Linked DNA regions of Homo sapiens: region 2 is linked to region 1. Evidence: fine-mapped expression QTL. A gene starts in region 1. The other region holds a variant in brackets. All regions are shown on one strand. Distances are from middle to middle. Region 1 holds the start of PPM1F-AS1 (PPM1F antisense RNA 1). Region 2 holds the start of TOP3B (DNA topoisomerase III beta).

Evidence for each region.
Region 2: its variant is fine-mapped to the expression of PPM1F-AS1 in whole blood (TOPMed, PIP above 0.99).

The regions. Positions count from the first base shown.
Region 1 is chr22:21,934,395-21,943,771 of GRCh38, reverse strand. It overlaps PPM1F-AS1 (PPM1F antisense RNA 1), which reads right to left and starts at 5,535. Exons shown (of 2, transcript NR_147620.1): 1 at 4,159-5,535; 2 at 338-2,670. It overlaps PPM1F (protein phosphatase, Mg2+/Mn2+ dependent 1F), which reads left to right. Exons shown (of 8, transcript NM_014634.4): 3 at 4,092-4,240. RefSeq lists enhancers at 3,497-4,303, 4,304-5,111, 5,112-5,918 and a silencer at 5,401-5,560.
Region 2 is chr22:21,974,621-21,983,997 of GRCh38, reverse strand. It overlaps TOP3B (DNA topoisomerase III beta), which reads left to right and starts at 1,211. Exons shown (of 18, transcript NM_001282112.2): 1 at 1,211-1,268; 2 at 8,191-8,358. The coding sequence starts at 8,289. RefSeq lists enhancers at 1,032-1,326, 824-1,810, 5,261-5,430. The variant A/G (reference allele first, on the strand shown) is at 4,733.

The DNA of each region.
Region 1 (9,377 bases):
CGGGGTGACAACATCAGCCTTCAGTTCCTGGGCAGGGGGAGAAGGGCGCAGAGCAGGGTCCCAGGGAAGGATCCAAGGTGGGAGGGCCTGGAGGGCTGAGGAGTGAGTAGGCAGTGCAGGTGACCTGCCCAGGAGGGCCCCGAACCAAAGTGTTGGGGTCAGTGCTGGGGGCGCAGGGGAGGGCAGTGGGTTTTGGTTTTGATGCGAGAGCAGCCAGACTTGTTGAGCGGCTGCTGTGTGAGCCACCTAGTGATGGGTGCGAGCAGGAGGGGTGCAGAGCTCCCGAGTCTCCTCAGCCCCCAGGAACCCACCTTACATGGTGAACTAAAATGGAGTATTTGAAGTTGTTATATGTTCCAGCCATCTTATTGGATTTATTTTTTAAGTTATTTTTGTTCTTTTCTAGCATCTTCTTTCACACGCAGGTGTGGATGTGCATAGGTGTAGTCAGCACTTGGGGTCTGAGCCTCACACGTTGTCTACACTAAGCCTGGCTGTCCACACACACGCACTCACATGTGCCCATACACAGTCACGAGTTCCACCTCCGAGCTCTGCTTCCCGTGTCCCAGCCTGAGGAGGGGCTCTTGGGCATGAAGGGCTTTGAGCATCTTGGTCCCTGAGCTCTTTCACAGACCGTAAAAGGCATCCTTCTGGAGGCCATCCAGGAGTCAGAACATCCAGTCCACAGGGGGCTATTTACGCCTTGTCTCCGCTCTTGTTTGGAGCCTCCTGTCACATATTTGAGTCCCTGAGCAGTGCATACCGTACACTAATGATTTGAGTGTGGTTTTTGTCTCTGCCACTAGACTATAAGCCTCTTGTAACAGCCCCTGCCCCAAGGTCGGTGAGACGTGTTTCTCAGGCACCTGGGCCTTGCATACACCTTGGCTTGTCCCTGGAGCATCTTCTTGCCTTGTGTAGGAGCCTGCTCTGCAGGGACCAGAATCAGGGTGGATCTGCATGGTGCAGTGACTCAGGGCTGAGGGCCTCTAGGGCGTGTCCCAGGCCAGACCCTGGGATGAGGCGGGAGCTGTGTCCAGGAAGAGGACGATGGTGGCCCTTGGCCAGGCATTGTCTGGGTCCCCACAGCCGGAAACTGCCTCCCTGCCCCAGCAGCAGTGGCGGGTGGGCAGGAAGCTGAGGCCTGGCCTCACCGGGACCAAGGGAAACAGGCGTCCTTCCTCCCTGCTGTGCAAAAGGAAAACCCAGCAGTTGGCAGGAAACCCCCAAATGGCAGAGGAACTAATTTCTCATGTCTTGGCTGGTTGTTTTTCAAAGGCAGTTCCAGAGGCTTCTCCCATGAGTCACCCTTTCATTTTAAAAATCACGAATCTGCTGAGCATGGTGGCTCATGCCTGTAATCCCAGCTACTCAGGAGGCTGAGGCAGGAGAATCACTTGAACCCGAGAGGTGGAGGTTGTGGTGAGCTGAGATCACGCCATTGCACTCCAGCCTGGGCAACTAGAGCGAAACTCCGTCTCAGAAAAAAAAAAAAAAAAATCAGGAATCCATCCCGGTAGATTCCTCAGACCATCAGTAGATACCTTGGGTGCCCAGCCCCCATGGAACAAGACCTGTCAGCCTGTGCTGTTGGAAGGTCCTCGCCTTCCAGTTAAAGCCGGGAGTGTCGGCCCAGTGCAGAATCACCTCGCCACCCCAGGCATGCTCCCCTGACCCCCACTCTCAGGGACAGGCACACAGGGGTGAATGTGTGTTGTCCAGCTTCCAGGGCCCCCACTGGGTGAGAAGGCAGATTCCAGGGGTCAAAATGCATGTTAGAGGCCATAGGGCCACTGAGGGAGCGACCCCTTCTGCCCAGAAAAGCCAGGGATGGCTCAGAATTTTAGACACTCCTCCCCACTGCCCTCCTTCTCAGCCACAGATGGCTTCAGTGTTTCTTTCCCTGATCTGCCCCGTGGCTCTCTTCTGCCCTGCCTACCTGCTAAAAGACGCTAACCCTCCTGTCGGTTTGCTTTCAGCCTGCTGCGACCTCCCTTTCTACCCACTACGCCTCCTCAACTGCTCAGCTCTGTTCTATGACATTGAAAGCAGTGACCCAATCTCACTTCTTAAAACATTTCCTTCGTGGCACCCAGAAGGCCACTCCTGGAGTCATCCCCACTTTGCTAGCCATGCTCTGGCCCTGTGGGACTCAGCCCCCTATCCTCATTCATTCCGCAGCTCCATCTCCTGCCCAGACCATGTTCTTGCAGGCCCTCAGGCCTCTTGACCTCCGTGGAACACAAGTCGCTGTGGAAACAGAGCCCATTGCCCATCCCCTGCCTGACTCTTCCATCCCCATCAGGGTAATTAACTGTACCACGAGCCTTCTAGTTGCTCAGAATAGAAACTTCAACACTGTCCCTGCCCCTCCATTTATACTGCCCGACTCTGTCTGCTCCTGTTTGTCACCATGGCCCTGCCCAGCCCAGGTCTTAGACTCTCTCCTTTAGACAGTCGTCCCCTTCTTGCCAGCCCACCCTCCACACCAGGGTCAGAGAGGCCTAAAAGCCCCATCTGATCATGCCATGTCCCTCTTCAAACAGACCAAAGGCGGCCAGGTGTGGCGGCTCACGCCATTATCCCAGGGCTTTGGGAGGCTGAGATGGGAGGATCACTTGAGGGCAGGAGTTCAAGACCAGCCTGGACAACATAGCAAAACCCCACCTGTACAAAAAAATTTACAGATTAGCTGGACATGGTGATGTCTGTAGCCCTAACTACTGCCTGTAGCCCTAACTACTCTGGAGTCTGAGGTGAGAGGATCTCTTGAGCCCAGGGGTTTGAGGCTGCAGCGAGCCATGATTGCACAGCTGTGCTCCAGCCTGGGAGACAGAGCAAGACCCTGTCTCTAAAAATAAATAAATAAAACACAGACCAATGGCAGTGCTTCCCTGTTAGCATAAAGCTTGGCCTGCCCTGTTCCCACAGCCCCTCACCCCGGCAGCTCCTATGGCCCCATCCGCCCAGGGACCTTGTGGACCACGCACAGCCACTTCCTCTGCTGAGTGTGCCCATGGGTCCCACACCCCAGGATCAGCTTCCTGGAGCTGCTGTACAAATGACCACAGACCCAGCAGCTTAAACAACAGAAGTGTGCTTCATGGTGCTGGAGGCTGTCATCTGAGATCAGGATATTGACAGAACTGGCTCCTTCTGGTGGTTTGTGGGCAACCCTTGGCATTCCCTGGCTTGTAGGTTCATCCCCCAGGTCTCTGCCTCATGTTCCCCTGGCATTCTCTCTGTGTGTGTGTGTCTGTGTCCAAATTCCTCCCCCAACCTGTTTTTTTTTTTTGGAGACAGCATCTTGCTCTGTCGCCTAGGCTGGAGTGCAGTGGCACAATCTTGGCTCACTGCAACCTCCACCTCCCAGGTTCAAGCAATTCTTCTGCCTCAGCCTCCTGAGTAGCTGGAACTACAGGCATGCGCCACCACACCCGGCTAATTTTTGTATTTTTAGTAGAGATGAGGTTTTACCATGTTGGCCAGGCTGGTCTCAAACTCCTGACCTCGTGATCTACCTGCCTTGGCCTCCCAAAGTACTGGGATTACAGATGTGAGCCACCGCACCCGGCCCAAATTCCCTTTTTCATAGAGACATCAGTCATTGGAGTAGGGGCCCAGCCTGCTCCAGCATGACGTCATCTTAACTAATTCCATCTGTAATGACCCTGTTTCCAAATGAGCTCCATTCTGAGGTACTGGGGGTTAGGGCCTCAGTGTATGAATTTAGGGGGGACACAATTCAACCCAGAACACTCCCCACCCCCCAGGGTCCCCAGCTGGCATGGGTGATTCCTCTGCCCTCCTGTGGCCAGGAGCCATCATCAGCATGGATGTCAGGCAGTTTACTTGCCCATCAACAGCCCCCTCCCAACTAGCCGCAGGCTCAAGTATGGTCCAGCTCCCCACCAGATGGTTGTGCGTCTGCCTTTGCTGTCCTGTGACCTTCCTGTCCCAGCTCCCTGAGGACAGGGGCCGCCCTGCTGGCCGTGACCCCTCAGCATGTGGGCTGACAGTTGGGGAAGGGGGGCTAGGTGTGGTCTCCTGCTGGGGGCTGCCCCTCACTTCCCCCTCCTCATCCCTAGGAAGGCCCCGCCACCACTTGCTGCTGCTCTGGCCCACGAAGCAGTTTCACAGCTGCTACAGACAGACCTTTCCGAATTCAGGAAGTTGCCCAGGGAGGAAGAAGAAGAGGAGGAGGACGATGACGAGGAGGAAAAGGCCCCTGTGACCTGTGAGTTCTGTTTCTTCTGAGGTGGCCCCAGGGCTGCTTAGCAGGCAACAAAGGGTGACGACATTGTGGGAAGCCCATTGATTGGGGTCCCTAAGGGTGCTGGGGCCCTCGCTCACAACGGCAGCAGAATCAAGGAGCAGAGAAGGCTTGCGGCCCCAGTGAGGTGGAGGGTGGCGGTCACAGCCCTCCACAGGTCATATAGTTCCCAGTCAGCCCACGAGGCAGGGGTGGGTGGTGCAGACACCCTCCTGTGTCCTGTCTGACTGAAGTTCCAGAACAGCCCAGGAAATTAAAGATGCTTATCCCGTTTCACAGAGGATCTCACAGGTGATCGATCTCTGGTCATGCAGCCAGGTTCAAGTGCCCTCAGTGTTGTAACTCAGTTAACATGCGCCCGGGCAGGCGAAGTCAGGGTTGGCCAGGTGGCATGCCAGCAGGTCTCGGGGCAGCAGCGTGGTCCCCTCAACGCTCGGGCCCCCTGCCTCAGCTGCCCCCAAGTCAGGATTCTGTTGGGTGGAGACGCTCTACGGTGTCCATGAGCCCCATGGTTAGATGCTGGTGGAAGCTTGTCTGTCAGCCTGCTCCTGGGACAGCCATAAGCATGGTGTGGCCAGGGGAACCCAGAAATGGAGAGGGCTGCAGATCCATTTCACAGAGGATATAATCATTAAAAAGCAGGGCTTTTATTTCATGTGACTTTCTTTCATTCTCCTAGTAATTTCATTTTATTATATTTCGCCAAAGTGTTGGTTGATGTTAGACCAGAAATACAGGGCGTAAGAATCGCAGGCTGCAGCAGGGGTGCCACAAGGGGGTAGCAACGTCCCACCCAGCTGAATAGTTGTCCCTGGACAGGCCAGCAGGCAGCAGAGTTGCAGTGGATTTTCCCTTCCTTGCCATTTCCTGTCGGCCATTTCCTTTCCCTTCCTTTGCCATTTCCTTTCCTTTCCCTGTTGTTCTAAATTCGGCATTACTAGTGCATGCGTGCATCCGGGGAAAAGGAACAAGGTGGGAGAAGAGAGAGAAAGCGAATACCCGAGGCCGCCAGCATCAGTGGGTGCCCGCGCTCTCCTCCTCGCTCTCGTCCTCTGCCCTCCGCCCTGGCTCCCTGCCCGCATTCCCTGGGAGCGCAGCCTTGCCTTAGCCTGGGAGACAGCTGTCCACAGTGACAGGCGGCCATTGTTCTCGGCCGAGCCAGCAGGCTTCCGGCCGGTGGCAGCTGCTGCTCCTCCGCTCTGCGGCCCCACCAAGGGGGCGCCGCCACCGCCCAGGCCCTCCCCGCCTGATGGGTCTCTGTCCGTCCACGCGGGAGACAGCGCCACCTGCCGGTGAGAAGGAGCGTTGCTGCGCCGGCACCAGCCCAGTCCTACGCTCGGGGCTCCTGCAGGCCTGGGAAGGAGGGAGGGCGCAGCTAGAAGGAAGTCTCGCCTGCCCTTGCTTCCCCGTCTGTCAGAGTGCCTCGCATGCAGGCCTGCCTAGCGGCCTTGATCATGCTCTCCCTGTCACGGAAGTAGAATGTAGTCAAGTTTTTGGACTCCAAGCCATTCTTACAAAATTGCGTCAGAGTGGGGATTGTATTATAAGAATTGCCACTGAAGAGCAGCGAGTGGCTGAAACCTCTGTGTGGCTGCCAGTCAGCCCCTCCCCGGTGACTGGATCAGCGAAGAATCCAGAAGCGAGGTTGCGGGGCTGCAGCCCTTGGCATGGGGAGTCCGTGGGCTGGGCAGCACTGCCTCAGCCGCTGGCCTTTCCTGAGCAGAGTCTAGGCTAAGCGGCTGTTGGAAATAGCAGTAGCACCCGGGGCGAGACCGTGAGCCACAGCGGCGGCCGGAGTCTCCCCCAGCCCGAGCTCAGGCCTGGTAAGCACCAGGAGCCCACAGTTTCCAGAGGGAGTGAGGAGGAGTCCATGGCATTTAGGGGCAGTTTTCTGGGCACAGTGGCCCTCAGACGAGAGGAAGAGGAGGCAGCGCTACAAGGACTGGCAGGACGAGGGGGGTTTCCTGCTGGTTTGCAGGGGATCCACTGGCCAAACTTGTGTGGAGCTGCCTTCCCTGAGCTGGGCCTGCCTGAATGAGTTCTCAGGCCCCTCCTTCACCCATAGCCTTGCCAGTCCCCAGTTCTTGCCAAATGCTTGAATAGGCCCCTGTGTTGGCCATGGCGGCAGCAGCTGGCTCTGGATGCCCCCACCCCTGCCTTGATGCATGGATTCCCAAGAACCTGTCTTTCTGTGACCTCCTGCGTGCATAAGCCCTCGCGTTCATGGTTCTTCCTCGGTGGCCCCCTCTGGCCTCAGCCCTTCTCCTTTTCTTCCACAGCCTCCGCCTTTAGGCAGGAGCTCTTTCCTCCTCTCAGTTCCCCATGTCCTTTGGGTGTGGCCTGTGACACTCAACTCCTGCCCTCGGCTGACTGGCCCTGATTCACCATGCTTGCCACATGCACCTGGGCTGGCAGGAGTTCCAGGAGAGTTTGTGCATTGAAGTGACATGAGTCCCTGAAGCCAGAGCCCCCATGGTTTCCTTTGGGCCTGTTACTGGTTGATCTTTTCTTGAGAAGCCAAGCTTAGGTAGGATTTGGGTATTTTTTCTTTTCAAATGAGTATTGTGGCTTATATTATTTGTTGCTACATAACAAATTGCCCCAAATGTAGTGGCTTAAAACAACAGACATTTATTCTCCCAGTTTCTGTGGGTCTGGAATCTGGGAGCAGCTTAGCTGGTTCTGGTCCAGGGTCTCTTACTGGGTTGTGGTGACATGGTTGCTGGCTGGGCTGGAGGGCCTGCTTCCACGGTGGTTTCAACACACGGCCACTGACAGGAGGCCCTGGTCCCGTCCCATGTGGACTCTCCGTGGCGCTGCTTGAGCATCCTCACAGCTCAGATTGAGCGATGAGAGGGAGGGAGGAAGAGAGTGAGAATACACAAGGCGGGAGGCGCAGGGCCTCTTTGTTTCGTAACACCTGAAGCACACGCAGTCACTGCCACTCTTCATCAGAAGCAGCCAGCTCCCACACTCAGCAGTGGGAAGTGAGCTCCACCTCGCAAAAGGGGAAGTCAAAGAATTTGTGGACATGCTTTAAAGCCACTGTCACACGAGACTAACACTTGTAATGAAAAACTGGGGAAGTATTAAGAAAGTGTACTTCAGGAAAAAGCTGTCCGTGGAACTGCCACGTGCAGGCCCACTCTGACACCTTGGTTGTGTGCTGTTCCCGCCTTTTTTTTTTTCTGGCCCTGGTGGTTTTTCATGGACTTGTAGTTAAACTGCATATGTAATTTTCCTTCTTTTTTCACTTAGTATCATGACAGAAGCATTTTACATGCTTATAAACTCTATTAAAATCCATTTTTTAGTTTTCTGTTTTAAGAGACCAGGTCTCCCTCTGTCACCCAGACTGGAATGCAGTGGTGTAATCGGAGATCGCCGTAACCTCGACGTCCTTGGCTCAAGGGATCCTCCTGCCCCAGCCTCCCGAATAGCTGGGAGTAGATATACCACCACACACAGCTAATTTTTTTTGGTTTGGTGTTGTTCATTTGCGACTGAGTTTCGCTCTGTTGTCCAGGCTGGAGTGTAGTGGCTCAATCTTGGCTCACTGCAACCTCTGCCTCCCGGATTCAAGCAATTTTCCTGCCTCAGCCTCCCAAGTAGCTGGGACTACATGTGCATGCCAGCACGCCCAGCTAATTTTTGTATTTTTAGTAGAGACGGGGTTTCACTTTGTTGGTCAGGGTGGTCTCGAACTCCGGACCTCAAGTGATCTGCCTGCCTTTACCTCTCAAAGCGCGGGACTACAGGCATGAGCCATGGCGCCCAGCCTGTTTGTTTTTAAGAGACAAGGTCTCTTTATGTTATCCAGGCTGGTCTTGAACTCCTGACCTCAAGCAGTCCTCCCACCTCAGCCTCTCAAAGTGCTGGGATTACAGGCATGAGCCACTATGCCTGGGCTAGTTTTTTTTAATTAAACTTTTTGTTTTGAGATAATCATAGCTGCACATGCAGTTGTAATAAATAATACAAAGAGATTCCATGTATACTTTACCCAGTTTCCTCCAATGGTAACATTTTGCAAAACTATAATAAAATATCACCACCAGGATCCTAACATGGTCAAAATACAGAGCAGTTCCATCACCAGGATCCCTCCTGTCACCCTTTTAAGGCCACCCTTATACCCCCACCCCTACAGACCCCATCCCTAACCACTGGCAACTACTAATCTTCTCGGCTTCTACCATTTTATTATTTCAAGAACACATATAAATGGAAGCATATGATGTGTAACTTTAGGGGACTGGTTTAATTCTCTGGAGATTAGCCCAGGTTGTTTGATGCATCAGGAGTTCATTCTTTGCCATTCTTGAGTGGTATTCAAAGGTATGGGTCGACCACGGTTTGTTTAACCATTTCCACGTTGAAGGACATCTAGGCTGACTCCAGATTTTGGCTGTTCCAGATAAAGCTGCTATGAACATTTGTGTTCATGTGTTCAAGCTTTTATGTGAACAGCCTTCATTGTTCTGGGATAAGTCCACAGGAGTGCCACGGTGGGGTCGTATGGGAGTTGCATATTTCGTTATGAAAATCATATTTAATAGCAGCTTAATTCTTCATCAAGAGACTAGATCTTTTTTTTTTTTTTTTTTTTTTGAGACAGAGTCTTGCTCTGTCGCCCAGACTGGAGCATAATGGCATGATCTCGGCTCACTGCAACCTCCGCCTCCCAGGTTCAAGCGATTCTCCTGCCTCAGCCTCCCGAGTAGCTGGGATTACAGGCGCCCGCCACCATGCCTGGCTAATTTGTGTATTTTTAGTAGAGACGGGGTTTCACCATGTTGGCTAGGCTGGTCTCGAACTCCTGACCTCGGGTGATCCGCCCACCTCGGCCTCCCAAAGTGCTGGGATTACAGGCGTGAGCCACTGCGCCTGGCCGAGACTAGATCATAATTTAAGTATTATTCCTTTGTCATTGGATATATAGTATTTCTAATTAATGGGCAATTATAAGTGATTCTGTACTTTGTCTTTAAAATTATTTTTGTGTTTCTGATGATTTCTTCAGGGTGGGTTCCCATGAGTAGAGTTGCTCCATGGTGGGATGGGAGACTTCAAGGGGCAAGTTGCCAAACTAGACATTTCT
Region 2 (9,377 bases), 40 kb before region 1:
AGTGAGCTGTGATCTCGCTACTGCGCTCCAGCCTGGGTGACAGAGTGAAACCCTGTCTTTAAAAAAAAAAAAAAAAAAACAGCAGGTTGGGAAAATCTACAAGGAACAAGGGCAATGTGTGTATGTTATTTAAAATAAGATCATAAAACGTATTTTAAACCTTCCATAATCCTAATGCTCTAACAAATAAATTAGTTGGCCGAGCGTGAAGAGTCACACCTGTAATCCCAGCATTTTGGGAGGCCGAGGGAGGCGGACCACCTAAGGTCAGGAGTTCAAGACTAGCCTGGTTAACACGGTGAAACCCCCGTCTCTACTAAAAATATAGAAATCTTTGGGAGGCCAAGGCGGGCGGATCACGAGGTCAGGAGATCGAGACCATCCTGGCTAACACGGTGAAGCCCCGTCTCTACTAAAAAAATACAAAAAATTAGCCCGCGTGGTGGCAAGCGCCTATAGTCCCAGCTACTTGGGAGGCTGAGGCGAGATCATCGCTTGAACCCGGGAGGCGGAGGTTGCAGTGAGCCGAGATTGCGCCACTGCACTTCAGCCTGGGCAACAGAGTGAGACTCCGCCTCAAAAAAAAAAAAAAAAATATATATATATATGTATACACACACATATATATACATACACATATAAATTAGCTGGGCGTGGTGGCGCACGCCTGTAATCCCAGCTATTTAGGAGGCTGAGGCAGGCGAATTGCTTGAACCTGGGAGGCGGAGGTTTCAGTGAGCCGAGATCACACCACTGCACTCCAGCCTGGGCGACAAGAGTAAAACTCTGTCTCAAAATAAATAAATAAATAAATAAATAAATAACTTAATTTTAGAATTCATCTTCCAAATATATTTTACACAGATCATTCATTCATTCCACAGATTTTTTTACAGCATCGAAAAGAAGCCTGCTATACACACATCGGTACATTTTTATTATTTTAATTATTAACAGCATAAATGTTTTCATGCCAGTTTTCATAATCATTGTAATGATAATTGTCATGATTGTCTCTCCGTGGCGGGGAAGAATCTGGGTGCAGGGCTTGGGGATCCCTGCGGTCCGCGGCGTGCAAGTGCCACTCCCTGGGGTGCTCCCGGAATCCGCGAGCCACGGAACCTAAGAACGCCGACCCGCCGGAGCCGGAGGGCAGACGCTGGCACACCGGACGCGGGGACGCCAGAAGCGGCTGGACCCGGAAATAGGGGTTGTCGGTAGCCGCCCCGGGAACAAGGACCGGAGCTGGATCCGCGGTGCGGCTGTGGGTGAGCGGCGGGCTGCGGGACCCTCGCCCGGCGGCTCAGAAAGGCGGGAAGCGCACGCATTTTTCTGGCTTGTTTCCTGAACGTTGGCCGGCGGAGGACCCGCGAGCTCGGGAGAGCGCCCGGGCCGGGCTCTGCATTCTTGTTGCCTCTTCCCTGGCGGGGGTGATACTCTCCCGCGGGGCTTGCTGTGGGGGTTCAGGGAGGTGGAGATGGGCCCGCCATGTGCCTGCAGGGAGCAGGCGCTGTGGTTAATACTTTTCTTCTTCGAACCCTCCCACAGCTCTTTAGGGTGAGATCTGCTGTACCAGTCTCACAGGTAGGGAAACTGAGGCTCAGGGAAGCTGTGCAGCCACCGGGGCCCAGATCGGTGCGGTACACACCCAGGCAGCTTCCACTCGCCGCCCCCTAGGCCCTGGCTGGGTTTTGAGGGCACCCAGGTTCTCTGACCTGTTATCTGTAAATGAAGTAGGGTACTTTTGTGAACAAATTAGCTGGAATCCAGGGGCAATAATTTCTCGCAGAAGTGAAAGGTAAGATGTTCCTAGTCTTGCCTTTTTATCTTCTCACCTTTTGAAACAGGACCTGAGAGGCCAGCCTAACTTGGGCTTGATGGCCAGCCAGTCCTGGGATTCTTTTGCCAAGGTCACCTGACACTAGTGTGACTTGTTCTGAACCTCCATTTACTCACAGTTTTAAAAAATTACAACACCTGCCTTATGGGGTTGCTGGCGAGATTGAATAGTGTTGATAGCTATGGTGTGCCTACTACAAAGGAGGAGCTTAAGAAATGGTTGTTTCCCTCTTTTCCTGATTCTAGAAGCATTTGGTAAAGTTACTGAGGTGGTAAATCCTAGGAATTTTAATGCTATTCAGACCACTGCTAGGCCTACTCCCAGGCCACATCTGCTTGTTTCTTTTTTTGTTTGTTTTGTTGCAGGCAGAGTCTCACTCTGTCACCCAGGCTGGAGTGCAGTGGCGCGATCTCAGCTCACTGCAACCTCCGCCCCCGGGTTCAAGTGATTCTCCTGCCTCAGCCTCCTGAGTAGCTGGGATTACAGGCATGCGCCACCACGCCCAGCTAATTTTTGTATTTTTAGTAGAGACCAGGCTTCACCATGTTGGCCAGGCTGGTCTTGAACTGCTGACCTCGGGTGATCCACCTGCCTCAGCCTCGCAAAGTATTTGCTCACTGTCTATTTACCGTGAGAATGCACAAAGCAAAACCCGTGTTCTCCTGCTGCTTACTTACTTTCTAGGAGCTGTAAGACAAGAGCTGAATAAGTAGATGGAAGCTGTACCAAGTGTAGTGATGAGTGCTACAAGGAAGCAAAGCTGGGCTGCTGTTCCATCAGAGTGCTCACAGAGGCAGGACAGGATCAGGCTTGGGGCACGGGTTCTAGAACAACCAAGTCCAGCCACTGGAGCTCTGGTCTCTCTGACCCCACAGTCCCAGTCTAGGCCAATAAAATGGCAGCACCTATTAGCATCCCTGCCTAGGATGCTGGCAGGACTGCCTGGTCCCTGGTGTGTCCTCATTATGTCATACATAATTGCTGACTACTCTGTGGCATAGACATGAGAAAATCTGAGGAAACATTTTAGGACAAAATTTCCTACTTTGGAAGAGATGGGAAACTCAGACCCTCACAGAACAATGCCCCTCTGCTGCGAGTTTTCCCTTTTGGCCTCTGGCTTCCCAGGGTGAGAGAAGGGGAGTCCCTAAATCTCTTTTAAACCTCACTTCTGGGCCTCTGATTTTGGTAGAATCAAAACTTCCCCAGAACGGAGAGCAGAGGCCAGTCATAATCACCTTGGTTGTTCATTCATTCCCTCAGCAGGCATTTAGTGCATGCTGGGTGCCAGAAATATGGCAATGAACCTGACAATTGTGGGAGAGACAGACTGCTGACGCCAGATGCAGTCTTCAGGAGGGGAGGGGCAGGGGTCAGAGCAAGTAGACTAAGGGGGAAAAGTGGCCTAGGCCGAAGCCTGCTGGCGCACAGGGAGGAAAGGTGGGTGCGCAGCAGAGCCTTGGGAGATGCAGCTGGAGCTGTCATGGGCCAGAGAGCTCATCTGCAGACAGTGTCGTCATTCCACAAGGCCTCGGCTCTTTCACTGTGGGATGGTTGTACATTTAAGGGGAACATCCACTTACTTATTTTGAGGAAAAAAGCAAATTGTCATTTTATTTGGGACAGCTTTCTGGTCAAGATTACTGATTTCACTGTAGTCCTGTGATCTCTTAAGTGGGGAACAAGGTTGACAGCCCAAGGCCGACCTTGGACCTCTTCCCCTGCACAGCATGATGAGCAGCAGAAGCCCCTTTAGTGAGGGAGTTCCTTTGGCATCCTTTCTGAACAATGCCCTTTACAACCCTCCTTTATTTTTCTGGTTTTATTGTAAAGTCCCTTGTCTTAGTTCTTGTCCCTCAGTCACCTGTGTCCAGGCGCTAAATGTAAAAGGTGCAAAAGGGAATGTGGTGAGGAGGCACCCCCAGCCCTGACCTCCAGGCCCTAACACCCACTCCAGGTGATTGCTTGGACTGTTTGTTTTGCGTTCCATCCAGACATATCGCCTCTTCATAATCAAGTGCACACGTGTGCACACATATGTGTGATCACAGATGGCAGTGCTCTCTACACACCGTTACATGCCCAGCTTTCTTAGCATGATTTATTTCAGTGATCTGATCCACGTTAGTATGTACCAAGCAGATGCTTTCCTTTGTAATGCTGCCAGGTGCTCTACTGTAGAGAATGCCATGCTTTTTTTTTTTTTTTTTTTTTTTGGAGATGGAGTCTCACTCTGTCGCCCAGGCTGGAGTGCAGTGGCGCAATCTCGGCTCACTGCAAGCTCCGCTTCCCGGGTTCACACCATTCTCCTGCCTCAGCCTCCCGAGTAGCTGGGACTACAGGCGCCTGCCACCATGCCCAGCTAATTTTTAGTATTTTTAGTAGAGACGGGGTTTCACCACGTTAGTCAGGATGGTCTTGATCTCCTGACCTCGTGATCTGCCCACCTTGGCCTCCCAAAGTGCTGGGATTACAGGCGTGAGCCACCGCGCCCGGCCAGAGAATGCCATGCTTTTATTTAACCACCTCCCTGTTGACAGACACCAGCTTGTTTCTAACCTTTTATCATGATTGATAATGCTGCAGAGAACTCCCCAGTGATGTGGTTCATCACAGGCACCACCGTGCCCAGCCTGAGGCCACTCCAGCGCTGCCCTGTCCTACCTCCTGGGGACTCAGAGTCCACATGGACAGTCTTGTCAGGGCCCACCACTGACTCCTGTGAGTCTCCCCAGGTGACTTCACTCTCTACCTGTCTCACAGCCCTTGCCCTCCCTGGGTCAGCATGCCACCACCCAGGCCCCTCTGTAATTCCTGTTTGAGCCTCCCACCCTCTGGGAGTTGCTTCTTTGACTCCCACTTCCTGCTCTTGTGCCTCACTTCCTGGACCCC[A/G]CAGAGCACACCCTCTGTGGACCCTCCCCAACCCTCACCTCCCTCTTCACCCAACTCAGAGTCAGGTTCTGTCCTTGTAATCTCTCCCCTCGAACCCTGACCCACTCCCTCTCCCTCCTACTCACCTGGACTCTCCCATCTAACTAAATCCAGTGCTTCCTCTGCTGTGGGCCTGCCCGCAGCATCACCACCTGTCCTCCCTCAGTGGACAGCCGTACCATGCCTCCTCCTCCACCAAGAGAAGTGCAGCCTTGTGGCAGCTCTGCATCGCCTGGATGCTGACCGGCTGCCTCTCTTGCCCCTCACCCTCCCAAGGCCATCACTGCAGCAGTTCCTTCCCCTCCGGCACGCAGCTTCTCTTTTCCTTCTCGCCAGAGCAGTCCCATCAGCGGAGAACATGCTGGCACAGCCACCATCCTGAAACAAGAGGGGACAGTGCACCAGCCTTCTCCCATCTCCCAGGTTTTGTTGAGCTCACCCCATGCAGCTTTCATCTGTCACTCACCACATGGCCCCATCAGGATTACCCAGGGCTCTGTTTGCCAGACCCTACAGTCAGGTCTCAGCTGCCATCTCGCCTGGCCTGTCAGTGTCCCCCACATGGTGATAACTGCCCTGAAGTGCTCTTTCCTGTGGCTTTCAGGACCTTACCCCTCCTGACTCACCCTGCTAGCTCCTCATCTCCCGACCCCCAGCCTGGGCTCCTTCCACATTGCTGCCACCTCCTCCAGGCCACCCAGGCTGTCCAATGGGCAGGTCCCGTTTAACACACCTGAAGTCCCACATCAGACTGCCAGTCCCTTCCTGTCATGCCTAAGCCAAAGCCATGGGTTGTTCCTTTTGCTTTTTTGTAAAGATGAGGTCTCATTGTGTTAATCAGGCTCTTCTCAAACTCCTGGCCTCAAGTGGTCCTCTTGCCTTCGCCTCCCAAAGCACTAGGATTATAGGTGTGAGCCCATGGCAGGTGTGAGCCCATGCCCAGCTCTGCCTCAGGTCATTCTTGACTCACCTTCCCCTCCCCCTCCCATGTCCCGCCATCCCAGGTCTGCCTGGATTCTGACTTCCCTCGCATCCTCCACCACTGCTACCCAGGGCCCATTCATCCTCTTCTATGTGGCAGCCAGAGAGGTCCCTTTAACACTTGAAGTCAGATTATCCCACACCTATGCAAACCCTCTGCTGCCTCCCAGCACCCCTAGAGCAGACCCACATTCTACACCCCTGCTCCCTCCCTCAGCCCCATGAGCCCCCCTGCCCAGCCATATCCTCCCCAAGGACCTCACCTTCCCTGCTCCTTCTGCCTGGACTCTTCTCCCAGGTGTCACCCAGCCCTGCCCTGTCCCTCCCCTGCTCCCATACTACAGCATGAGTTCTGGGAGGGCAGGACCTGGTGTTGCTTTGTGCTGTATTCCCTGCATCCTGGACTAGGCCAAGCATGCAGTAGGTACTCAATAAATAACTGGACTATTAAGTTCATTCCAAGGAGTGGAATTGCTGGGATGTGCACTCGGACTTTGAGAGGGATCCCTGAATTGCTGCACATAGAGGTTGTTCCCATTTAACTTCCCCATGCCCTCATCTGCTGTGTGTGCAACGACTTTGAGTCTCTCCCTATGTGATAAGCACAAGCTCATTGTAGTTCTGAGTTTCTTCTGCGAGTGTTGTTGGACATGATGTGATACCACAAAGGTACTTACGTGGTGGTTTTCCCTTTTTTTTTTTTTTTTTTTTTTGTTTGAGATGGAGTCTCACTCTGTTGTACAAGCTGGAGTGCAATAGCATGATCTCGGCTCACTGCAACCTCCACTTCCTGAGTTCGAGCGATTCTCATGCCTCAGCCTCCCAAGCAGCTGGGATTATAGGCACCCACCACCACACCCAGCTAATTTTTGTATTTTTATTAGAGATGGGGTTTTGCCATGTTGGCCAGGCTGGTCTTGAACTCCTGACCTCAAGTGGTCCACCCACCTCAGCCTCCCAAAGTGCTGGGATACAGGCGTGAGCCACTGTGCCCATCTAGGTGGTAGTTTTTCTTTATGCTGAGATTATTTTATTTTGCTTTTACTTTTTTTGAGACAGGGTCTTGCTGTCACCTAGGCTGGAGTGAAGTGGCTGTTCTATCCACAGGTGCAGTCATGGCACACAACAGCCTTGAATTCCTGGCCTCAAGCAAGCGATCCTCTTGCCTCAGCCTCCTGAGTGGCTGACACTATAGGCATGTGCTACCACACCTGGCTTGTGAGATTTATTTTAAAAGCACATGTTTTTCCTAATATTTTCTGGTTTCATTGTTTCTACTCAAACCTTTGCTAGATCTGGAATCGGTTTTAGTGGGATTTAGGAAGCAGGAGTCTAACTTTATTTTTTTTCACAGCAGATTTCCCAGTTGTCTCAATACGAGTCTTTTTTTTCTTTTTTAATACGGTGCTATGTTTATAAACATCAGTGCTACATTTATAATGACTGAAAAAACAAAAAGGGTTCATGTGGTTTTCTTTTACTTGGCTAGCAGGTATTGAATGTCATGTGTCAGGCACAGAAAGCTGTTGCAAAGACCAACAGTGATTCAGACACAAAGCCCATCGTGTCCTATTTTGGGGGTGAAGTAGTCGCTGATGATGGCATGATGTGAGTGGGTTGGAATGGAGACCTAGCCCAAGAGCTGTGGGCACAGGAGGGCTGACTTACCCTGCCAGTGGTGTTGGGAGACTTGAGCTGGGCCTGTGGGCCATCCAGCTGCATCCTCCAGGCCTGGCGGAGCTTTCTCTCAGGCAGGGAAGCGCAGGCACAGAGGCTTCAAGTGCGTGTTTGCTTCGATGATGATATTTGATTTAATTTGGCCAGAGCATGACCTGCAAAGCAAAAGGTGGAGTGGAATAGGTGGGAGATAGATGTGACAGAGTCCTGATGTCTGCTTGGGGCTGGACCGACTAGCCAGAGGGTCTCAGGCCCATCATGGATCAGAAGGACCTGGGGGGCCCAGCCTGGGCATCTGCATTTTGTAAAGTGTCCTGGGGCGTCCAAGTGCTTTGCTGAGCGGGAGGTGCTGCTCTCGGCCACGATAGTTCCTCTTTCCAGGTGAGTCCACCTGTAGGTGGAAGAGCCAGTCCAGAGAGGAGGGCCAGGCATCCACCTGGCCTGACCCATCACTCCAGATCCCCAGGCCCCAGCATCTTCCTAGCATGGATTTAGGAATAAAATTGACCTGAGATCACTGGGGCCACTTCACCTTCCCCCAAATGGAGCCACATTCCCAGGATCATCTCAGCCACTTCAGCTGACCTGGTAGTTTTTTCTTGTTTTTAATCTCAGATGTCTTCAAGTTTCCCTAATTCCCTAATTTTTCTTCTTCTTGCCTCAGGTTGGTCTTGTTTTTTCTTTGTTAAAGTGATTTTCCTTGTAGTGGTGTAGGTTCTATTGACAGCATTGCTATCCTGAGTGTCTTTTCTTCTCTTTAGGAGTCAGCATTGGTAATAGTGCTGTGCTGCGGAAGAGTGGAGTCTAAACTTTTTCATTGCCAGTGCCCCGAAACTGGAGTGTGAAGGACCGAGACAAAATGAAGACTGTGCTCATGGTTGCTGAAAAGCCGTCCTTGGCACAGTCAATTGCCAAAATCCTCTCTAGAGGTAGGAGAGACCAGCCCTGCTTTGGTCTGTAAGCACGGTCGTTTATGTGTTACAGGACATTTTTTCCTAATGTGATTCCACCCTGGCTGGGGTAGATTTGGTTCGGGTCGGCAGGTGGTAATGAAGCATCTCAGTATGTCACAGTGGGGTGCATTTGCTTCCACTCCTGGCAATGTGCCAAAGCTGGGGTTCCCATAAGGCACAAGGCACAATTTACAATGAAATTGAAGGACAGTCATTATCCATATGCTGGGCCTGGTGGGGCTATTAGGTACAGGTAGTAGAAACCAGCCCTGGAAGGAAGGAGACGCAGCCAGGACTACACCCCAGTCAAGGTCTGATGAGGCTATGCCCCAGGCATTGTCACCCCTGGATACTCCCACTGTCCTGTGGACCTCACGTCACTCCAGAGTAGCCAATGGACTGAGCTATGGCCACAGGCACTACTGAGACACCAGGGAGCTCGAGAGGGAATGTCTGCCACTCACCCCCAACTCTGGCCACTGGGGTGGTTGGTAGGGTGCTGTTTCCCCCTATCTTTGAATTCCCTCCAAATAGGAAGAGTTTTAGATGCTGGGTACCCAGAAATGACAGGCACCTACCTGGCCTCCCCTTGGTCCAGCAGTTGAGAGGGGAAGAGACCCTCGTTCAGCTGAGAAGGCATGGTCCGCAGGGGACGGTGCCCCAAAAGTGGTGCCCGGTGCCCAGAAGCTGAGAAAGTACAGCTGAGTATGGTCAGTGGAGAGGGTGAGAATTCGATAATTAGAAGGTCCCTGGTAACCGAGAGTAGATCTGGAGTCTGTTTTAGTAAACGATGAATAACGTTTCAATGAAGTGAGGCAAAAATGGAATTGAAGAGTGAAAACATAAATACAGAGAAAGAGCCCACCCCTGCCTGCTCCTGGCTCCCGGCAGCCTGGGGCTCTGCATCGAGAGTGCTCTGTGCTAGGTTGTTGGCAGATGCTGTTTTCCCTGAGCGCCGTCCCACCTCTCAGTGCCCAACTACCCGCACCAGTCTG